Homo sapiens: one gene and its partners. The protein of the gene in region 1 purifies or fractionates together with the protein of each later gene. This does not show direct contact. Each region holds a gene or a part of one and is shown in the gene's direction. Other genes may lie near its edges.

Region 1 (6,637 bases):
TAGATGTCTGTTAAAACAGTGTTAGAAAGGCACGTATGTGATGCATATCTCCTGGGAGATCTGTATCTAAAATGAGACTAGAAATCACATTCTCTTGTATAAATCAACTTTGACAAGCCCCAAACTGGGAATATATCTGTAATTAATAAATGAAAATTACAAAGCTCATTTCCTGCGCTTACTTCCACCCACCCTACCCACTCTTGTGGGGCTACACCTGACACTTATTAGGCTTTTGAAAAAAGGAGACTTAAAATAAAGAGAATCTATCACTCAACGGTTTGTCAAGGCATGAGCTTTTTTAGTAGGTTCACAGAACAAAATGTGTAAATGGTAAGTTCCTTGAAGGATTTCTTTGACATAAGAAATAGCACAAAGTGAGCATGTACTGCTTGGTTCTATTCAGTTAAAAATATAGGGGTGGCTTTGGTCTCTAATCTGGAGAAACTGCTCATCTACCAAAAGCTATTCAGGGCATGGCCAAGGCTGATATCTTGCATCTAGGGCCTTCTTGTTTTGACAAATGCTGTATTTATCTCATTACTCAAGGTTCACAGTGGTTTTTGGTTTTAAGATGGACTAGTCTGGCAGAATAAATTCCATTAAATGAGAGAGTTAGGCAGATGGTTTCTGAATTGTGAATTTTATATCAGCAAATATAAAAAGGGATTGCTCCAAAGAAGTTCCAGACTATTGGAATTGTAAAAGCACCCAATCAGCTCTCTATAAACAGGTTACTGTTATTTTTCACCAATGAGAATTTTTTTTAATGTACTACTAAAAATTAGGCTTTGGGTTCCCTTGACTAGCCAAATTCGACCAGTAATAGACACCATTTCTTCAGAAGGGGTGTCTTTATCTAATGCTATTTTGCCTGGCTATTGTCAAGAAGGTCAGAGAAACCTGTCCAGGGTAGTGATGTTTGAGGTAGGTATTGAAGAGCTCAGGAAAACCATGAAGACAAGGAAGGATTATTGTCAGAGGGCTGTACTAGTAATTCTCAAAATGTTGTCCCTGCACCCAGCAGCACCAACATTGCCTGGGAACTTGTTAAACATGAGAATTTTCAGCCCCACTTCAGACTTACTGAATCAACAACTCTGGCATGGAGCCTAGTAGCCTGTGTTTTAACAAGCCCTGCAGTTGATTTTCACATATCTTAATATTGAGAACCACCGGACTAGCAATTTGAAATTTGAAAGAAAATGGTGTGTTTGAAGGGCTGCAATTTCTTCCACATGGCTCAATTTTAGATTAAGTATGGATAGTGGGAAATCTTGAGGATGACAAAGCAGGCAAGATGATGATGTGCCTTAAGTCTTCATATGGAATTTATACCATATCATTAGGATGATGAGGAGCTAACAAATGCTTAAAAGCAGTGAATTAATAAGGAAGAACCTGTTAAAATAACTCTAGGAGCAGTGTGAGAAATAGACTAAGTCCCTGACTGGATGAGGTTGCAAAAAAAAAAAAAAAAAGAAAAAAGAAAACAAGCTCATAATTGGTTGGGAGATTAAATGATATCATGGTTATGGAAGACTTCTAGAGACTGGGAAAGGACTACCTAAGTTAGGATGGGCTGAAAGGGGAAGAACACAAAGATCTGTGTCAGGATTTTAAAGATGAGTAAATGTTGAAGTTACTAAAAGCAATTAAAAATAACAAAGACCTGCCATTTTCAGTAAGAAAATAACAGAATCAGTTTTGGATTTGTTAACTTTTTAGTTCCTGCAGGTGACTACAAGTTTAGGACTCATAATTCTGGTTATCAACAATCTATCTAGCCAGCTTTATATAAAATTAAACTGTAGGAACAAATGCAATATACTAGGGAAACTATATAAAAGAGAAAAGAACTGAAAAAAAGTCCTGAAATTGCTATGAAAACCTGTATGAACATGTTGGAGAGAAAGAGGGAGTAAAAGGAAACTTTTCTCTCTGATTTTGGCACTATTATCATGGATCTGCTCATCCATTGTCTGTCTAAAACATTACTAGCTAAGATGAAAACCCTATGGCTAGCCTGGAGGGTCTAGAGTTTTCATAATTTTGAGAGAGACCCAGCTTTTTCAAAGGTAACGGTTAAAAAAACAAAGCAAAACAAACTATTATGTGGGCTCAGTGGCTCAAGCCTATATTTCTATCACTTTGGGAGGGTGAGAAGGGAGACTCCCTTGAGGTCAGGAGTTTGAGACCAGTCTCTGTGCAACACAGCGAGACCTCATCCCTAGCAAAAAAAAAAAAAAGAAAAAAAAAAAAAAGAAAGAAACAAAGAAAGAAAATAGCAAAGCATCCTGACACATGCCTGTAATTCCAGCTACTCAGGAAGCTGAGATGGTAGGATGGCTTTAACCTAGGAGTATGAGGTGGCAGTGAGCTATGATCAGGCCACTGTACTCCAACTTGAATGACAGAGTGCTAATGACAAATACAGTGTATTAAGAATATCTACATCATGGCCTTGAAACCAAGAAAGAACAACTGATTTAAAGCACAACTTTAAGTATTGATAATTTGGGGAAATAAAACATGATATTTTTTAGAAGACAATTGCCTAAAGCCCTTTCTCCTCTCCCTCCACCTGCATACAACCTCCTCTTGAAATGAGCACTGCTTACTTATCTAATTTATCCAGTATCCTCCTTCCACCTTCTTTTCAAAATCTAAGCTTTACTAGACTGACTGAACAGAAAAGTTAGTTTATAGTAGAATTTATTTCTATAGAGGCCCTTATTCCTAGGGAAGGTTGTAACTTGCTACTTCATGTTACTTTGGAGCTATAATTATGATAAAATTCAACAGTCCAAAAGACAACATGCACGGGTGTTGCTAGTGAGCTGAACGTAAGGCATCACCCTTACTCTGAGCTTGGCCTGTCTAAAAGTCAATGTCATTTATTTTATAAGCTAATTCTTATGCATGAAAATATTGCAATCTTGGCAAAATATATTTTTGCATCCGATGGTCTTAGCTGCCTTCCAGCCTTGCTTAACAACTTCTAAAGGACACACACAAGTACTGCAGGGGTGGGGGGAGTATAAGATTAATTATCTCTTTCCACACAATGCCTTTTCTTTCTCTCCCAATTATGGATAATGAGGCCAGAAGTGTAATTACTGAAGGAGTTTGGAAAGGTAATTACTGAACTAATCTCAAAAATGGTGGTGACCACAGCACAACAAAACTCACTTTATAGCTGTCAGAGCCACTTGGAATGTGATACACATGTTGTGTTTGCAAACCCAGGTGCTGTACGAAAGGTAGTTTCATATTAGCAAATTACCACAACGACCTGCTACATTCTACTCATTTTGATTTTGTAATGAGAAAGCCGATTAAACTGTAATAACTTTAAGTTGTGACTCTTAAACAAGTTACACGTTTTGAAGGAGGTGAAAAAACAAAGATGGCGGGTTTGAGGAGCCTTTCTGGGATCCTGTTGAATATCGAGTCCTGAGATTTGCAAATAGCTCTACCTTCATCTATTCCCACTGATCACTGGAGAGTTAAAGTTTAAGGAAACTTCATAGCAATTCTCAAATTAAAGCACTGAGCTTTGAGACTGCCAGCCAAGGCCTCCTTTTATGCTTAGGCATAAATGTACACGGGACATATAAATTAAATTTCAACGCCATGGTTCCCGTTGCTTCTCTGTTACCTGTTCTTTCTCGCCATGATCCGGAGAGCACGCCACATCCTCCTCCAACCCCTTCACCCTCACTGGCAGAGAACAATCTCTCCATCCCTTTGTGCTCCCGTACCATTCACTCCTAAGCCCTAGGTTCTGCCGCCTCATCTCATCCCTTTGTGACGTAGTGGCCCCAGTCCGGGCCCCGGCGCGCTAGGCTCACAAAGGCAGGCACAGACTGCAACCCTGCTCAGTGCTCCGGGCGCTTCAGGCTGGCTTGGGTCCTGCTGCTCCAACCCCAAGGGCCCTGGAGCGCTCCCTGATACCTCCATCACTCACCATGGCCAGCCAGTTCTGCCTCCCTGAATCCCCATGTCTCTCGCCCCTGAAACCCTTGAAGCCACATTTCGGAGACATCCAAGAGGGCATCTACGTGGCGATCCAGCGCAGTGACAAGCGGATCCACCTCGCTGTGGTCACGGAGATCAACAGAGAAAACTATTGGGTCACGGTAGAGTGGGTGGAGAAAGCAGTCAAAAAAGGCAAGAAGATTGACCTGGAGACCATACTCCTGCTGAATCCAGCTCTGGACTCTGCTGAACACCCCATGCCGCCCCCGCCCTTATCCCCCTTGGCTCTGGCGCCCTCTTCGGCCATCAGGGACCAGCGTACCGCCACGAAATGGGTTGCGATGATCCCCCAGAAAAACCAAACAGCCTCAGGGGACAGCCTGGATGTGAGGGTCCCCAGCAAACCTTGTCTGATGAAGCAGAAAAAGTCTCCCTGCCTCTGGGAAATCCAGAAACTGCAGGAGCAGCGGGAAAAGCGCAGGCGGCTGCAGCAGGAGATCCGAGCTAGACGCGCCCTCGATGTCAATACCAGAAACCCCAACTACGAAATCATGCACATGATCGAAGAGTATCGCAGGCACCTGGACAGCAGCAAGATCTCAGTCCTGGAGCCCCCGCAAGAACATCGCATCTGCGTCTGCGTGAGGAAGCGGCCTCTCAACCAGCGAGAGACAACCTTAAAGGACCTGGATATCATCACCGTCCCCTCGGACAATGTGGTTATGGTGCATGAGTCCAAGCAAAAGGTGGACCTCACTCGCTACCTGCAGAACCAGACCTTCTGCTTCGACCATGCCTTCGATGACAAAGCCTCCAACGAGTTGGTGTACCAGTTCACCGCCCAGCCACTGGTGGAGTCCATCTTCCGCAAGGGCATGGCCACCTGCTTTGCCTATGGGCAGACGGGAAGTGGGAAGACGTACACCATGGGTGGAGACTTTTCAGGAACGGCCCAAGATTGTTCTAAGGGCATTTATGCTCTGGTGGCACAGGATGTCTTTCTCCTGCTCAGAAACTCCACATATGAGAAGCTGGACCTCAAAGTCTATGGGACATTTTTTGAGATTTATGGGGGCAAGGTGTATGATTTGTTGAACTGGAAGAAGAAGCTGCAAGTCCTTGAGGATGGCAATCAGCAAATCCAAGTGGTCGGGCTGCAGGAGAAAGAGGTGTGTTGTGTGGAGGAAGTGCTGAACCTGGTGGAAATAGGGAATAGCTGTCGGACTTCCAGGCAAACACCTGTCAACGCTCACTCATCCAGGAGCCATGCAGTGTTCCAGATCATCCTGAAGTCAGGACGGATAATGCATGGCAAGTTTTCCCTCGTTGATTTAGCTGGGAATGAAAGAGGAGCAGATACAACCAAGGCCAGCCGGAAAAGGCAGCTGGAAGGGGCAGAGATTAACAAGAGTCTTCTAGCCCTCAAAGAATGTATTCTGGCTTTGGGTCAGAACAAGCCTCACACCCCATTCAGAGCCAGCAAACTCACACTGGTGCTCCGGGACTCCTTTATAGGCCAGAACTCCTCCACTTGCATGATTGCTACCATCTCTCCGGGGATGACCTCTTGTGAAAACACTCTCAACACTTTAAGATATGCAAACAGAGTAAAAAAATTAAATGTAGATGTAAGGCCCTACCATCGTGGCCACTATCCGATTGGACATGAGGCACCAAGGATGTTAAAAAGTCACATCGGAAATTCAGAAATGTCCCTTCAGAGGGATGAATTTATTAAAATACCTTATGTACAGAGTGAGGAGCAGAAAGAGATTGAAGAGGTTGAAACATTACCCACTCTGTTAGGGAAGGATACCACAATTTCAGGGAAGGGATCTAGCCAATGGCTGGAAAACATCCAGGAGAGAGCTGGTGGAGTACACCATGATATTGATTTTTGCATTGCCCGGTCTTTGTCCATTTTGGAGCAGAAAATTGATGCTCTGACCGAGATCCAAAAGAAACTGAAATTATTACTAGCTGACCTCCACGTGAAGAGCAAGGTAGAGTGAAGCCAATGGCGAGAGATCAGGTCCGAAATGCTGCATTGCTGCAGTTTCCACCACTCTTATACAGGAAAACTGTCCAAATTATCTAAAGATCCTCCTGAGAAGCTTAAAACATCTTAAAATACACTGATGGGAAACATGCTCTTTCTTCTGCCTCTGTATTTCTGTAGTTTGTTTTCATCCTGCTGAACTATAGTTTTCAACAGGGAATGGTTCCTCCCCACCCCCTACCAGGACATTTGGCGATGTCTGGAAACATTTTTGATTGTCACAACTGGGGGTGATGAGGATACTGGCATACAGTAGTTTGAGGACCAGAAATGCTGCTAAGCATTCTAAAGTGTACAGCAGCAGTCCCCAACCTTTTTGACACCACAGACCGGTTTTGTGGAAGGGAGTTGTTCCGTGGGTGGGGTTGGGGATGAAACTGTTCCACTTCAGATCATCAGGCATTAGTCTCCTAAGGAGCATGCAACAACCTATATCCCTCACATGCACAGTTCACAATAGGGTTCATGCTCCTGTAAGAATCTAATGCTCCTGCTGATCTGACAAGAGGGGGAGCTCAGGCGGTAATGCCCGCTCACTGCCAGCTTGCCTTCTGTTGTGTAGTGTGATTCCCAAAAGACCACAGACCTACCGGTCTG
Region 2 (7,165 bases), on another chromosome or scaffold:
CTTGAGCCTACGAGTTTGAGACCAGCCTGGGCAACATAGGGAGACACCCTCCTACCATTTCTACAAATATATATATATATATATATATATATATATATATATATATATTTAATTAGCCAGGTGTAGTGGTACACACCTGTGGTCCCAGCTACTTGGGAGGCTGAGGCAGGAGGAACACCTGAGCCCAGCAGGTGGCGGCTGCAGTGAGCCGTGATGGCACCACTGAAATCCAGCCTGGGTGACAGAGTGAGACCCTGTCACCAAAAATAAATAATAAAAATAAAAATAACAGCATTAGAATGGGCTCACATTAGTGAAATCAGGGATATTCAAGATATATGCATTGTTTAAAATATGTGAGACTCTACTCACTTTTGCGTTAAAAGAGTATAAGAATCTTTCTTAAAAAAAAAATCTTTGTCATACAGACAATTAATAAGAAAAAAAAAAAGAATCTAGCAAGTCCGAAGCTTGTTTCCTTCAGGATAATACTCTAGGCTAAACCTCTAAACCGTCCTGTGTCCAGCTATAAACTCTGAGGGTTGCAGTTTCCTGATATCGGCTATAAGGCCAACAGAATCCTGCCTCTGTAATAGTGGTGAGTCCACCTTGAGAGCTCTACATTTCATCACAACGGTGGTCAGAGCATCTCAAAGGTCAAAGAGTTGGGACCTCATTGAGCTTACTGTTCACATGAATTGTTTGATGCCTGCTTGCTCAAGACTTTAATAAACATCTGAATAAATGGAGCCATATTCAGGTTATATTCACATTCCTTAGGGAGCCTGGAGAGAACACCCCGTACCCAATGAGGAGCTATTGTTCTGGTGGCCTTTACCCTTCTAGCAGGCACAGTGTTTGTTTTTTTTTTTTTTTTGAGATAGAGTTTCCCTCTGTCACCCAGGCTGGAGTGCAGTGGCATGAACTCGGCTCACTGCAACCTCTGCCTCCTGGGTTCAAACGATTTTCCTGCCTCAGCCTCCCCGAGTAGCTGGGACTACAGGCACACGCCACCATGCCCAGCTGATTTTTTTTTTTTTTTTTTGTATTTTTAGAAGAGACGAGGTTTCACCATGTTGGTCAGGCTGGTTTCAAACCCCTGACCTCAGGTGATCCGCCCTCCTCTGCCTCCCAAAGTACTGGGATTACAGGCGTGAGCCACAGCGCCCGGCTTTTTTATTTGATAACTTTATTTATTTAGAGACGAGGTCTCGCTTTGTCGCCTACGCTGGTTTCAAACTCCGGGGCTCAGGCGATGCTCTTGCCTCAGCCTCCTAAACTGCTGAGATTACAGGTGTGAGCCACGCCTGCAGGCACAGTTAAAAGACAATAGTCCTGGCGCAAAGGTGAGATCAATGTAAACAGAACATTGGATGACCCTTAAAGTCTTGGACATAAAGAAAGGATAGGCCAGGCATTGCGGCTCAAGCCCGTAATCCCAGCACTTTGGGAGGACGAGTTGGGCAGAGGACGAGTCGGGCAGAGCACTTGTGGCCAGGAGTTTGAGAGCAGCCTGGCCAACATGGCGAAACCCCATCTCTACTAAAAATGCAAAAATTAGCCGGGTGTGGTGGTGCACGCCAGTAATCCCAGCTACTAGGGAGGCTGAGACACGAGAATTCCTTGAACCTGGGAGGTGCAGATTGCAGTGGGCTGAGATCATGCCACTGCACTCCAGCCTGGGCGACAGAGCAAGACTCTGCATTAAAAAAAAAAAAAAAAAGAGGCCAGGCACGGTGGCTCAGGCCTGTAATCCCAGCACTTTGGGAGGCCGAGGTGGACGGATCACAAGGTCAAGAGATGAAGACCATTCTGGCGAACGTGGTGAAACCCCCTCTCTACTAAAAATAGAAAAATTAGCTGGGCGTGGTGGGGCGCGCCTGTAATCCCAGCTACTTGGGAGGCTGAGGCAGGAGAATCACTTGAACCCGGGAGGCAGAGGTTGCAGTGAGCCGAGATTGGCCACTGCACTCCAGCTTGGGCAACAAGAGCAAAACTCTGTCTCAAAAAAAAAAAAAAAAAAAAAGATATGCATTTAATTCAATTAAATATTTTTCATTTCTCTGAAGGCTTGGGGTTAATGGCATAGTTCTTTTCTTTTCTTTTTATTTTTTGAGACGGAGTCTCGCTCTTGTTGCCCAGGCTAGAGTGCAATGGCGTGATCCCGGCTTACTGCAACCTCCGCCTCCCGGGTTCAAGCGATTCTCCTGCCTCAGCCTCCCTAGTAGCTGGGATTGCAGGCACGTGTCACCACGCCTGGCTAATTCTATTTTTAGCACAGACCGGGTTTCACCACGTTGGTCAGGCTGGTCTTGAACTTCTGACCTCAGGTGATCCGCCCGCCTCGGCCTCCCAAAGTGCCGGGGTTACAGGCGTGAGCCACCGTGGCCGGCCTCTTTCCTTAATAAAGATAACTTTATTGATTTTTTTCATTCCATACATACTTAAACAATATAGAAAATCATGAAATTTGAAACCAGCCTGGGCAACATAATGCCCCATCTCTAAAAAAAAATTTTTTTTTGAGGAATAACTTACTTTTGTGTGTGTGTGTGTGATGGAGTTTCTCCTCACCCAGGCTGGAGTGTTCAATGGCACGATCTTGGCTCACTGCAACCTCTGCTGCCCGGGTTCAAGCGATTCTCCTGTCTCAGATCCCAAATAGCTGGAATTACAGAAGCCCACCACCGGCTGGGGGCGGTTGCTCACACCTGTAATCCCAGCACTTTGGGAGGCCGAGGAGGGCAGATCAGGGGGTCAGAAGTTCAAGACCAGCCTGGCCAACATGGTGAAACCCCTCTCTCTACTAAAAATACAAAAATTAGCCCAGCGTGGTGGCACGTGCCTGCAATCCCAGCTACTCGGGAGGCTGAGGCAGGAGAATTGCTTGAACCTGGGAGGCGGAGGTTGCAGTGAGCTGAGATCGTGCCACTGCACTCCAGCTTTGGGTGACAGCAAGACTCCGTCTTGGGAAAACAAAAACAAAGAAAAAAGAAAAGCCCACCACCACCACCATGCCCGGCTAATTTTTGTATTTTTAGTAGAGACGGAGTTTCACTGTGTTGGCCAGGCTGGTCTGGAACTCCTGACCTTGTGATCCACCCGCCTCGGTCCCCCAAGGTGTTGGCATTACAGGCGTGAGCCACCGCGCCCGGCCTCATAATGAATTATTTAAGACAATATATCAGGATTTCATGATGGTCTGTGCCTTTCAGAAGCTCGGCCATTGGAGATCTGGTTCCATCAGATGGAAATAGGGAATATTCCTGAGGAAATCTCCCCTCTCCCCCCCAACATCATATCAATAAAAAAAAAAATTCGGTTCAGCAAACCGAGTTTGTTGAAAAAATTTAGGTAATGAAACGAGTAAATGGGGTGGGAGAAAGCAGGATACATTCAACATGAATGAAGTGCCAAGTAAGTGTGCAGAAGCCGGGGCGGTTCAACCAAGGTGAATAGAATGCGGCACCTATCCCGCGGGAGCTCGGGACAAGTAAACCGTGGTAACAACTCTGGTGGAGGGGCAGGGCTCGGGGCAGGTGCCCGAGCACGAAACTTCAAATTCTAAGAGCCAATACACCTTCCGTCTTGAAAGTCGTGAAGTATTTTCCCTTATCCCCAAATCATTCGCGCCCAATTCCTAAGAACGGCAACAAAAACAAAAACACAAGAATGTGTCGCCGATCGTGCTCCTTCTCAAACACGGGGATATTTCTAAACTTTCCGCGAAAGATCATAACGAGTACCTTCCTATAGCCAGACATCGCCCCCAGAAACCGCAAGTCCCACTAGGATGCACACGAAGCACACTGGGTGCAGCACTCTCCCCTTTTCAGAACGCCGCCTTATGTCCCAATCCCGATCCGAGCCTGCGAGCTGTGGCCGCACGCCCTGCTGGGACTTGTAGTCCACTCCCGAGTCCCATTCCCGATCCGCGCAGACTCACACGGCCTCTATCTGCCCTTCGGTCTTGCTGAAGCCCAGCCCAGTATTCAATGCTCCCCATCCCCATCTCGCTCCGTCCCCTCGGGGGCCAACCTCCTCCGGTCACGTGGGAAGTCTCACATGCGGCGATTGGTCGTGGGGGCTCGGGGGCGGGGCGAAAGGCCCTGCGAGATTCTGTGCCCCTTGTCGGGCCGCTTGTTTGGCTGCTGCCGTCACCTCATGGCGACGCGGGTAGAGGAGGCAGCGCGGGGAAGAGGCGGCGGCGCCGAAGAGGCGACTGAGGCCGGACGGGGCGGACGGCGACGCAGCCCGCGGCAGAAGGTCAGTCAGGGGGACGCCCTCGTTGTTGTCGGGCCCGGGGGATGTTTGGGCTCCCTTTTTCAGGGTCCACCTCTTCTCTCTCCCTGGTTACCTATAGCCACGGGACGAACATCCGGTCTTCTTCCCTCCCGGGGGTGACGACAGTGGGAGCAGGTGGGGGGGGGTGGGACCGCGATGGATGGGGTGGGAAGGGACGACGGTTGGGGTTTGGCGGCGCGCGGCGGGGAAGCCGGGAGGGAGGGCAGGGGGCGCACGCGGTTCTAAGGGAGAAGGGGTGCGAGGCGGGGGTGCGCCAGGTGTGACAGCCACGTGCGGCCAGCACCGCGGGGATCCGGGCGCCAGGCGTTCCTTCTCCCAGTCACCGCCGTCACCGTGCTCCCGGCGCTGAGCGCCGCCGTCCGGGGGCTCGCTGGGGTCGTGGGCTCGCCCTCCTGGCGTCGGGCAGGTGCGCAGGGCGCGCTGCGGGGTGCCCCCGGGCTGCTCAGGCTAGGCTGTTGCGCAGTAAGATAACCGCGCGGGAGCCGGGGTGTGCTTGGCCCCCCTTCCCCCGCCCCCCTGCGCTCCCCGCCACTGCGCGGGCGGGCAGGCGAGCGGGTGAGTGTCGCAGGGCCGGTGCGAGCGGGACGCTCGGCCCCCGGGACCTAGACCCCGGGGCTCCGAGGGCTTGGCTGCACGTGGGGCCGGGGATGGATGGGGAGGCGATGCTGGAGGACCTCGGTCCTGCAGAGTTGGGATATCGCATGATAGCTGGTCCTCCCAGTCCTATTTACCACCCTCCTCTTTTTTCCCCTCTTTTTTTTCTTTCATTTATTATTTTTTTAATTTGATGAGTGGAAACTTGAATGCCTTCCCGACCCTGGCCTTGGGTCTTTCTTAATCTGGGAAACAGGCCGGACTGTTCCCCTTGCCTTACTTGACTCACGTCAAGGAGTTTTCAGTCCCTCCCTAGATACAGGAAAATTGAGACCTCTTTCAGAACGGGACAATTCCACTTGTTCTGGAGCTCAGTGGGTGGAGTTTGAAAAAGATTGCACAACGAACGGGGTACAGGGTTTTCGGGGCCCTGGAATGGATAATTGCGGGGACTGAGACTGGGAAGGTGGGAACCCCATCTCTTTTTTTCCTTGCAGGTGAACATACTGAAACGTTCGACTTGTTGGATATCTTGCTTGATCACCGAGGGCTATTTAATATTACTTAATTATGTATTTGAACACTCTTAACTCCTGTATGAAATTACGAAATAATATTTTTCTAATGCAATTCATAAACTTCAAATGGGAGAACAAAGGTCCAGTTTACGTCTGAGCAGAGTGTTAAGAATTAGCTTTTTGGGGCCTGTTTCTAAGGTCAGGTATTTTCATGTTTCTGCATGACAGTGTTACTACTTCTCAATTACCTCTCTTTCTTTCTCTCCCTCTCTTTGTATTCTAAAAGAAAGATCCAGTGCTTGCAGGACTGAAAAAGAAGCTGTGGACCAATGTCCTGTAAGGGATTCAACACCATCACTTTGGACACTTCACTTATTCCCTAAGGGTGGAGTGCCAATCTCAGTGTTTGATTTCGTAGGTTCCCCAGGGGAGGAGGACTCTGATAAAAAGCCACTGCAATTGAGGATATAAGTTCCCTTTTATGACACTGGGATAAGGACAAAAAGTCGTTGAATTAGGAACTGAGGTTTAATCAACTAGCATTTAAAATAACCAAGATAGGAGGTAATGACCCTTTGAGGTGCAGAGCTCTGGTTAACAGCTGGATAGGAATAGTCATGTGTGTGTCTACTCATTTTTGTTTATGTACCTCATACTCCATTCTTCTTTGCTTATGCTCTTCTGAGCATCTTTTTCTTTTTGATTTCTAACTGACAGTGACGGCATTCAAATACATGGTAAAATATTAATCTTTGAATTTTCATTTAACAAATTGGGTGAATTATCTTGTGTTTGCAAGAATCATTTTTAAGCCAGCTATGGTGGCATGCACCTGTAGTACCACCTAGTCAGGAGACTGAAGCAGGAGGCTAGCCTGGGCCGCAGAGTGAGACCCTGTCTCTTAAAAAAACAAACAAACTTGTTGTGTTTTTTTTTTTTTTTTTTGAGTCAGAGTCTTGCTCTGTTACCCAGGCTGCAGTGCAGTGATGCAATCTTGGCTCACTGCATCTTCCACCTCGTGGGTTCCAGCGATTCTCGTGCCTCAGCCTCCTGAGTAGCTGGGATTACAGATGTGTGCTACCACGCCCAGCTAATTTTTATATTTTTAGTAGAAACAGGGTTTCACCATGTTGGCCAGGCTGGTCTTGAACTCCTGGCCTCAGGTAAGCCACCCACCTTGGCCTTCCAAAGTGGCGGGATTACAGGCATGAGCCACTGCAACTGGCCAAAAATTTTTTTAAAAATCATTTTTACATTACTTCATTGTGTCCCTTAATTTTAAAATTTCTTTTGGGTCACTGACTTGAAAAAATATTTCTTAATTCCAGCTTAACTTCTATCCTTTTTTTCAGGAAGCAGAAATGTTTAATGAATTGAGTTTTTTGAAAATATTGAAAGAATTAAAAGAAAAGTGAGTGTTTTGTCATTATCTAGTTACATTATGGGACCTGAAGTGAGGAACAATTGGAGATGGGCTTTTTTGGTTCCTGGTTGCTTTAACCATCTGCCTAGTCACTCGCGACCTGCTCAGTTAATTGTGGCATTGTTTCATAACTACAACCATTTGAATGGTCTCTTGAGGTAACCTTTTGCTTCTAAAGGTAATGTTACAGTACATTACTAGGGGTCTCTTCAGGAATTTTCTAAAACTGTGCTGATAGTAGCCACTAGTGACATGTAGCTAAATTTGTTAACTAAAATTAAAATTAAAAATTTTTTTCTTCAGTTATACTAACCAAGTTTCAGGT
Region 3 (7,029 bases), on another chromosome or scaffold:
TTTTTTTTTGTTTTTTTTGAGACAGAGTCTTATTGCCCAGGCTGGAGTGCAGTGTCGTGATCTCGGCTCATTGCAACCTCCACCCCCTGGGCTCAAGTGATTCTCCTGCCTCAGCCTCCCAAATAGCTGGGATTATAGGCGTGCGCCACCACACCTGACTACTTTTTGTATTTTTAGTAGAGACAGGGTTTCACCATGTTGGCCAGGCTGGTCTTGAACTCCTGATCTCAGATGATCCACACACCTCAGCCTCCCAAAGTGCTGGGATTACAAATGTGAGCCACTGCGCCTGGCCCTAGAATAGTTCTTATCAAGGATGTGGTATTAAACGTTTTTTGTGTGTGTGAGATGGAGTCTTGCTCTGTTGTCCAGGCTAGAGTGCAGTGGCACAGTCTCAGCTCACTGCAACCTCTGCCTCCTGGGTTCAAGTGATTCTCCTGCCTCAGCCTCCTGAGTAGCTTGGCCTACAGGTGCTACCATGCCTGGCCAATTTTTGTATTTTTAGTAGAGATGGGGTCTCACCATGTTGGCCAGGCTGGCCTCGAACTCCTGACCTCAAATGATTCACCCCTCCTTGGCCTCCCAAAGTGCTGGGATTACAGGTGTGAGCCACTGCACCTGGCAAAACTTGTAGACACAAAAAGCAATATGTAAAATTTTGAACAAGAATTTATTTCTAGATTATTTGCCCAAACATTAATTTTATTACTTTAAATGTTAAATTCATAGACTAAAATTGAGGGTTTTAAATGTTGATGCTTAATTTTAGCAATAAAAATGTTTATAAAATGTATTTGTATTCCATACAAAATGTGTTTGCATATTCATACAAAAAAGTCTAAGATTGCATTGAAATATATATATGTATATAGTAAGAGAGAAAATTAAGTTTTAAAAAAAAGTTTGGGGAAGTCAACAAATTGGACAAATGAGCACAAGCAGTATAACATGAAGCCAGGAATGAAGAATACAAACTTCATGTTCAAAAGGTTTCCACATTTTCTAAAAACAGGAAACAAATTTGGTGCTGGTCTTTCTCACAAAGCAGAAAACCTAATTAATTACATGAGTCACAGTATTCATGAGACAAAACATTTTAGTTGCTCAGAGGACAGCTATTTTTGGTATTGAAACCAAAGGAACAATTTTCCCATGATCTTTAAAAAGAGGGCACTATCATACAGTGTTCCTCAAACTTGAATAACATGTGGATCCCTTTAAGGAGCAAAAAGTATTTTTTTCAGGCATGAGAATCCAAGGGTCTATAAACCCCAGTAAAAAAAAAAAAACTCAAGTCTTAGTGGTAGAAAATTTCTGTTAGTTGTGAATTATTACTGTAAAACATGTTGTATTTTTCTAAATATTAAAAAATTTTATCAAAATGAAAATATAAAAGGTAAACATTTTCTGGTACTTGTGGATTTCTTATTTTATTGAGACCTTGGACTTCATTTTACAAAACAGTGCTATAATGGAATGAAAAGTATCCTCAGTAATTTTTACAATATTTAGATTTCATGAGGCTGTTTCTCATATGTCATGCTGTAAGTTAATGGCACGAAGCCAGAGGATGATTCCATTTCAGTAATTCTGTAGAGTGTATCAAACCAATTCTATTCATATTCAGACTATTCCACCTCCAGGCGGTTCTCCTTAAGTATTGTTTCAATAGAGCTTTTCATAAGTAATCAGCAACAATGTGCTTGGGGTTCAGTTTTGCTCAACAAGTATCTGGAGAGCTTTTAGTTTGCCTTGCCCCTTAAGTGGAGAGCTGTAACAATCAACTTATTCACAAGGTAGAATTGACACCCTCTTTTGACAACTGAGTGGCTTCAAAAGGATATAAGCCTACACAGAAGGCCATTTCCCCTGCAAAGGACCAAGAATCAGGCTAGGTTAATACACCACTCAGGAAGCAATATCAGATTTTCTCTAGTACACAAATGGAAAGGGAAAGAGAACCCCAGAGTTCTGTATCATAAAGCCTGACAGTAATTCCTTCACCCTAGAAAAAATGTAAAGCAATTGAAGATGCCTACCCTGGCAATCTTTTCTAAAACTCTTAGTACATACCATTACAGCAGGTGTAGCTTAAAAAAAAATTGAGTACAGCCCATAAAATATTGTAACTTGCTACTATAGCTACTAAAGAAACTGGTTATAAAATGGATATTGAATTATGTGGATGACTTGCTGTTTTGTATTGTTAATCATGAGAGTTAAATGAAATGACTAGATATAGATTTCATATTCATTGATTCAGAATAACCGTTTTGCACTCCTTCTTATTGGAAGTCAGTAGAGCCCATATATAGCTGTTCTTTTTGATTTGGGGAGTTTTTTGTTGGGATTTTTTTTTTTCTATGGAGACAGGGCCTTGCTCTGTCACCCAGGTTGGAGTGCAGTGGCATGATCTCAACTCACTGCAACCTCCGCCTCCTGGGCTCAAGCAGTCCTCCCACTTCAGCCTCCTGAGTAACTGGTACTACTGGCGTGAGCTACCATGCCTGACTCATTTTTGTATTTTTTTGGCAGAGATGGCATTTCGCCATGTTGATCTCAAACTCCTGGCCTGAAGCTGTCCTCCCACCTCAGCTTCCCAAAGTGTTAGGATTACAGGTGTGACCCACCGCACCCAGCCTACCTGTCTTAGAGATAGTTGTCCAGACAGCTATCTTTTAGGCCACATCTAGGAGATGGTAAAGCCATGTCATCTACATATGGTACTTACACACTTTTATTTTCTGTGTTGGGGAAAAGGGAGAGTAAAGAAGGGAAGGGGTAAGCAAAATTTTATCTCGCTCACCCGAAAGTGACATCAAGTCATTAAGATACAAGTTAAAAAGAAGATTGTCAAAAACACATTTCTGTTTTATTTCACTGGAAATTATATAAGTCCTGAAAAGACAGCCTCAGCTATTTAACTCTCCTGATACTGTTATGGTGCAGGTTTGGTAAGCGTCAATATCTTCAGCCGTTGATAAAGTTAATGCTTTTTTTTCCATAGCTAGATACTATCCAGAGTCAGAAGTCAAATAGAGCTAATAAAATGTGTAAGCGATTTGATAGTATTCCTAATAAATTCTTCCACAAGGAGAGGAGTATAACAGCTGTGGCCAGTGGCAACCTGGCAGAGGCTACCATGTTCTCACATTGAGTATTAGCATTAGCGGCCCAAGTTTATAGATTCTTCTTTTTTTTTTTTTTTTTTTTTTTTTTTTTTTGAGATGGAGTCTTGCTCTGTCGCCCAGGCTGGAGTACAGTGACATGATCTCGGCTCACTGCAACCTCTGCCTCCCAGGTTCAAGCAATTCTCCTGTCTCACCCTCCCAAGTAGCTGGCATTACAGGCATGTGCCACCACACCCAGCTAATTTTTGTATTTTTAGTAGAGACAGGGTTTCACCATGTTGGCCAGGCTGGTCTCAAACTCCTGACCTCAGGTGATCTGTCTGCCTCGGTCTCCCAAAGTGCTGGGATTACAGGCATGAGCCACTATGCCTGGCCATTATAGACTCTTAAGAAAGAGACACATACCTTCTCTTCATATTCATTTTAGGTGGAATATTGGGCTGCGTTTATGTAATGAAATTGTATACATCGGCTAAAATGAATGAATTAAATTCCGACTGTCAATATGGATAAGCCCCACAAACATGATGAGTTGAATAAGTAGAATATTACACCATTTATGTAGTGTTTCTAAACAATTTTATTTAGATGTGCATGTACGTAATAAAAATAAAAGCAAAAACCATGAGCGGGAAGAATACACATCAATTTCAGAGTACTGAAAATGCCCCTGGGGAAGAAAGGAAGGCAGTAAGATTGAGAAAGGGTACTCTGCATCTGTAATATGGTTTTACTTAAATAATCCAAACCACTATGGCCAAAAGTTAGCTTTTGTTAATTCTACATATTATGGATATGTGTGTTCATTACTTTCCTGATTATTTGAAAAGTAAGTAAATTATAGTCCAGTGATAAGTGTTACCTTGGAAGCAATAAAATGTATGTAAGTTATAAAGTAATGATCCAACTACATTGATGGTGACAGGATAGGTCTTCCTAGGGGAGAGGACATCAAAGTTGGATTCTGAAAGACAAATGGGAATTTAATGCAAATAAGTACTCATACATGGAAGTATGCAAAATGTAGTAGGGAAACTATAAGCAATTCAGTGTTCCTAAAGCATAAATTATAGGGGCAGTTAAGGAAGGTGGGGAATGAAATTTGGTAAGATGAGAAATATTTAAAAGGCCAGATCATGAAGGGCTTTGTAATCCACGTTAAGGAGCGTGGATTCCATTTTGAGGCAGCAGGGAGCTAACAAATGTTTTAAGCAGTGCAGTGATTTGACATGACCCTTGGATTTTAATGAAAGATCACTTTTGCTAGAATGTGGAAGATAGTGCTTGCATATAAGATTAAGTTAACCAGTCTGTTTAATTCACTTGATTATAATCTTTAGAATTAAAAAAATTGAAAATAACAAAAATGTCTATAAATAGTAATGGTTAGTTATGTCATATCCATTAAACAGAATACTCTGCAGACATTGAAGTCAACATAGAATATATCCATGATTTATTCTTTAACATTTTATTGTCAAATTTTTATCATATTGAAAATCTGAAAGAACTTTACAGTGATCACCCATGCACCCACCACCTAGATTCTAACATTAGCATTTTCTAATCTTACATTATCACTTATGTATCCACCTTTCCATTCACTAGGGTGTTTTCAGTGGAAAACCTATGTTTCAAAACTGCATTTTAGTGTAATTTTTAAAAGATATTTGTGTATGCATAGGAAAGCATTGTGGGAGGATTTATATAAAGTTAACATTGGTTGTCTTTCACTTACAGATGATTTTTGCTTCCCATTTTATTCTTCATTGTATTGTCTGAATATTTTACAAGGAATGTGTGATAAAATAATTTTAAAAGTATGTTTAAAACTACATTAAAGCTCTTCTCCTTTAGCATGAACAAGAATGGGTTTTTTTTAAAGTAGATACAGCTTGATTTGAAATGAAGTCAATTTTTTTCTTTTTTCTACAGATAATGATGAATAATCCTCAAAATGTTTTTTAATCCTCAACTATATGAAAGCATTTGAATTTGGCTTATCAGAATAACAAGCTTCAGTGGGAAATACAGCAATTATTTATTTAAAAAATCAGATTTAAGATGGACTTTCTTATTGCATGAAAAAGATGGAGAAACATGCCATTTTTCAGTGAAGATTCTAATATTTTATCTATTTTGTTCATTGAATTCCATGGTTAAATCTCATAAAATATATACTTTATTAAATCATCCAACCAAAGCATAGGAAACATTGACCCAGAACCTGACTTAATGGTTTTGAAGATTTACTATGCAATAGGGTAACTTTGAGTTTCAGCAAATGTCTTTAGGTTGAAGGAATTACCTATGTCATGAAGGACCTGTCTGTGGTTTTTCAATGGAGTCTTTAAGCATGATCTTTTTTCTGTCTAGTACTTGTTTTCATTCTGGCCAGCAGTTCTACATTAAATCACCTTGTCAAGGGCTCTGTTTACATCTATACATTTTGAAGATGAAATTTTTAGCCTTAAAGTTTATATTCTCAAGTCCTTTTACAATCAGTGTGTCTCCTGAACTAGCACACAGGCTGTAGAAACAGTCTTAGAAATCATTGAAAGATTTGATTATGAAAGAATAGCAAAATTATATTTCTTGACATATAAAAAGTTGGTTTAATGCCTTTATTTCTCTTTAAGGACCAGAACCAGGAATACTATATCGAAAAATTAGTCTGTGGATTTAACACTGACTTAGCATATAGCTTAAAGTTGCTCTTTTGGTTTTTAACTTCCTCCATACATAAGCTTCAAGGACAATAAGATGTTAAAAAGGAGGAAATAATTATTTTTATTTTGACACTGTGACAGTTTTGGTAACTAGGATCCTAGGGAGGGAAATGTTTGCCTGTTGAACTTCTTTCTGTTATGAGAGGATTTAGTTAGGTCATTAAGATGTTGATCACACAGCTTCAATCACAATATGCCAAGTATAACCTGGTTTCGTTAGAGGTGTCTACAGTCCAGATGTTCTTCGTAATAAAAGCAAAGTTTTTGAACCTCTGAGTCCAAAGCAGGCTGGTTGGCATAATATGTAATTTGAAAAATAAAATCTTATCTTGCAGCACTATCAGTATGTTGAATTTATTATGTATATTATTTCTAATATCCGAAACTAAATACTTGATTTTTTAATATGTGTGTTTATTTTATGATATTGCTATTAAATTTTTATTATCTACCTGAAGTATATCAATTGTCTTTTATTTATTATTTTACTTTTCTCAATAGAAGGCTTTTACATCAAGCTGATAATACTTTTGTTGGTTTTGTACCTGATGATTTCTTTCTTCATAATGGAAGAAAATGAATTCAATATTTTAATTCTTTACAATCCTGAAAGATGGGCATGATTTTGGGGAGGTTGTGTATTAATTCTTAAACTATTACAACTATTAGAAAAGGGTATAATATGGTAGAAAAAAATTGTTTTAGCCATATTTCAAAAGATGTTATATATGTGCAGGAATAAGGATGATCAATAAGATTTGTGCCATCTCCAGTCGATTAGCAGTGTGTGACTCTGGAGTGTTGTTATGGAAAGATTATGCCAGTGAGGAAAAGGGCTATTTTTCAGTAAGGTCTATTATAAGTGTTGGAATTGACATGTGGAAGCATCTGTAGATTAATAAATGTTAGCATTAAATGGGCTATCAGGATAACTTTGTCTTTTCTGCATTTAACATGCAAGGATATTGAACATGAAATTAAGTCACTTGTGTAAAGGGTCAGGGTCAGAGCAGTTTCTAGGTCTTACACTGTTATTAGTTGCACATTCTTATCTCCCCCAGAGAACCAAAAAGAATAAATTTGATAGGAATTTGGGAGGCCGAGGCAGGTGAATCATGAGGTCAGGAGTTCAAGACCAGCCTGGCCAAGATGGTGAAACCCCATCTCTA

The links. Proteins that work in one complex are often made in the same cells at the same time.
Region 2: the proteins of KIF2B (region 1) and TXLNG purify together in Homo sapiens (affinity purification with mass spectrometry; 2 studies listed by BioGRID and IntAct, with this or other methods). This does not show direct contact.
Region 3: the proteins of KIF2B (region 1) and NEK1 purify together in Homo sapiens (affinity purification with mass spectrometry; 2 studies listed by BioGRID and IntAct, with this or other methods). This does not show direct contact.

Annotation. Positions count from the first base shown.
Region 1 is NC_000017.11:53,819,063-53,825,699, forward strand, and holds KIF2B (kinesin-like protein KIF2B), read left to right. Parts: upstream 1-3,864; 5' UTR 3,865-3,971; coding exon 3,972-5,993; 3' UTR 5,994-6,131; downstream 6,132-6,637.
Region 2 is NC_000023.11:16,782,324-16,789,488, forward strand, and holds the start of TXLNG (gamma-taxilin), read left to right. Parts: upstream 1-4,142; 5' UTR 4,143-4,164; coding exon 4,165-4,266; intron 4,267-7,165. UniProt on the Homo sapiens protein: May be involved in intracellular vesicle traffic. Inhibits ATF4-mediated transcription, possibly by dimerizing with ATF4 to form inactive dimers that cannot bind DNA. May be involved in regulating bone mass density through an ATF4-dependent pathway.
Region 3 is NC_000004.12:169,392,561-169,399,589, reverse strand, and holds the end of NEK1 (serine/threonine-protein kinase Nek1), read left to right. Parts: intron 1-5,066; coding exon 5,067-5,080; 3' UTR 5,081-6,781; downstream 6,782-7,029. UniProt on the Homo sapiens protein: Phosphorylates serines and threonines, but also appears to possess tyrosine kinase activity. Involved in DNA damage checkpoint control and for proper DNA damage repair.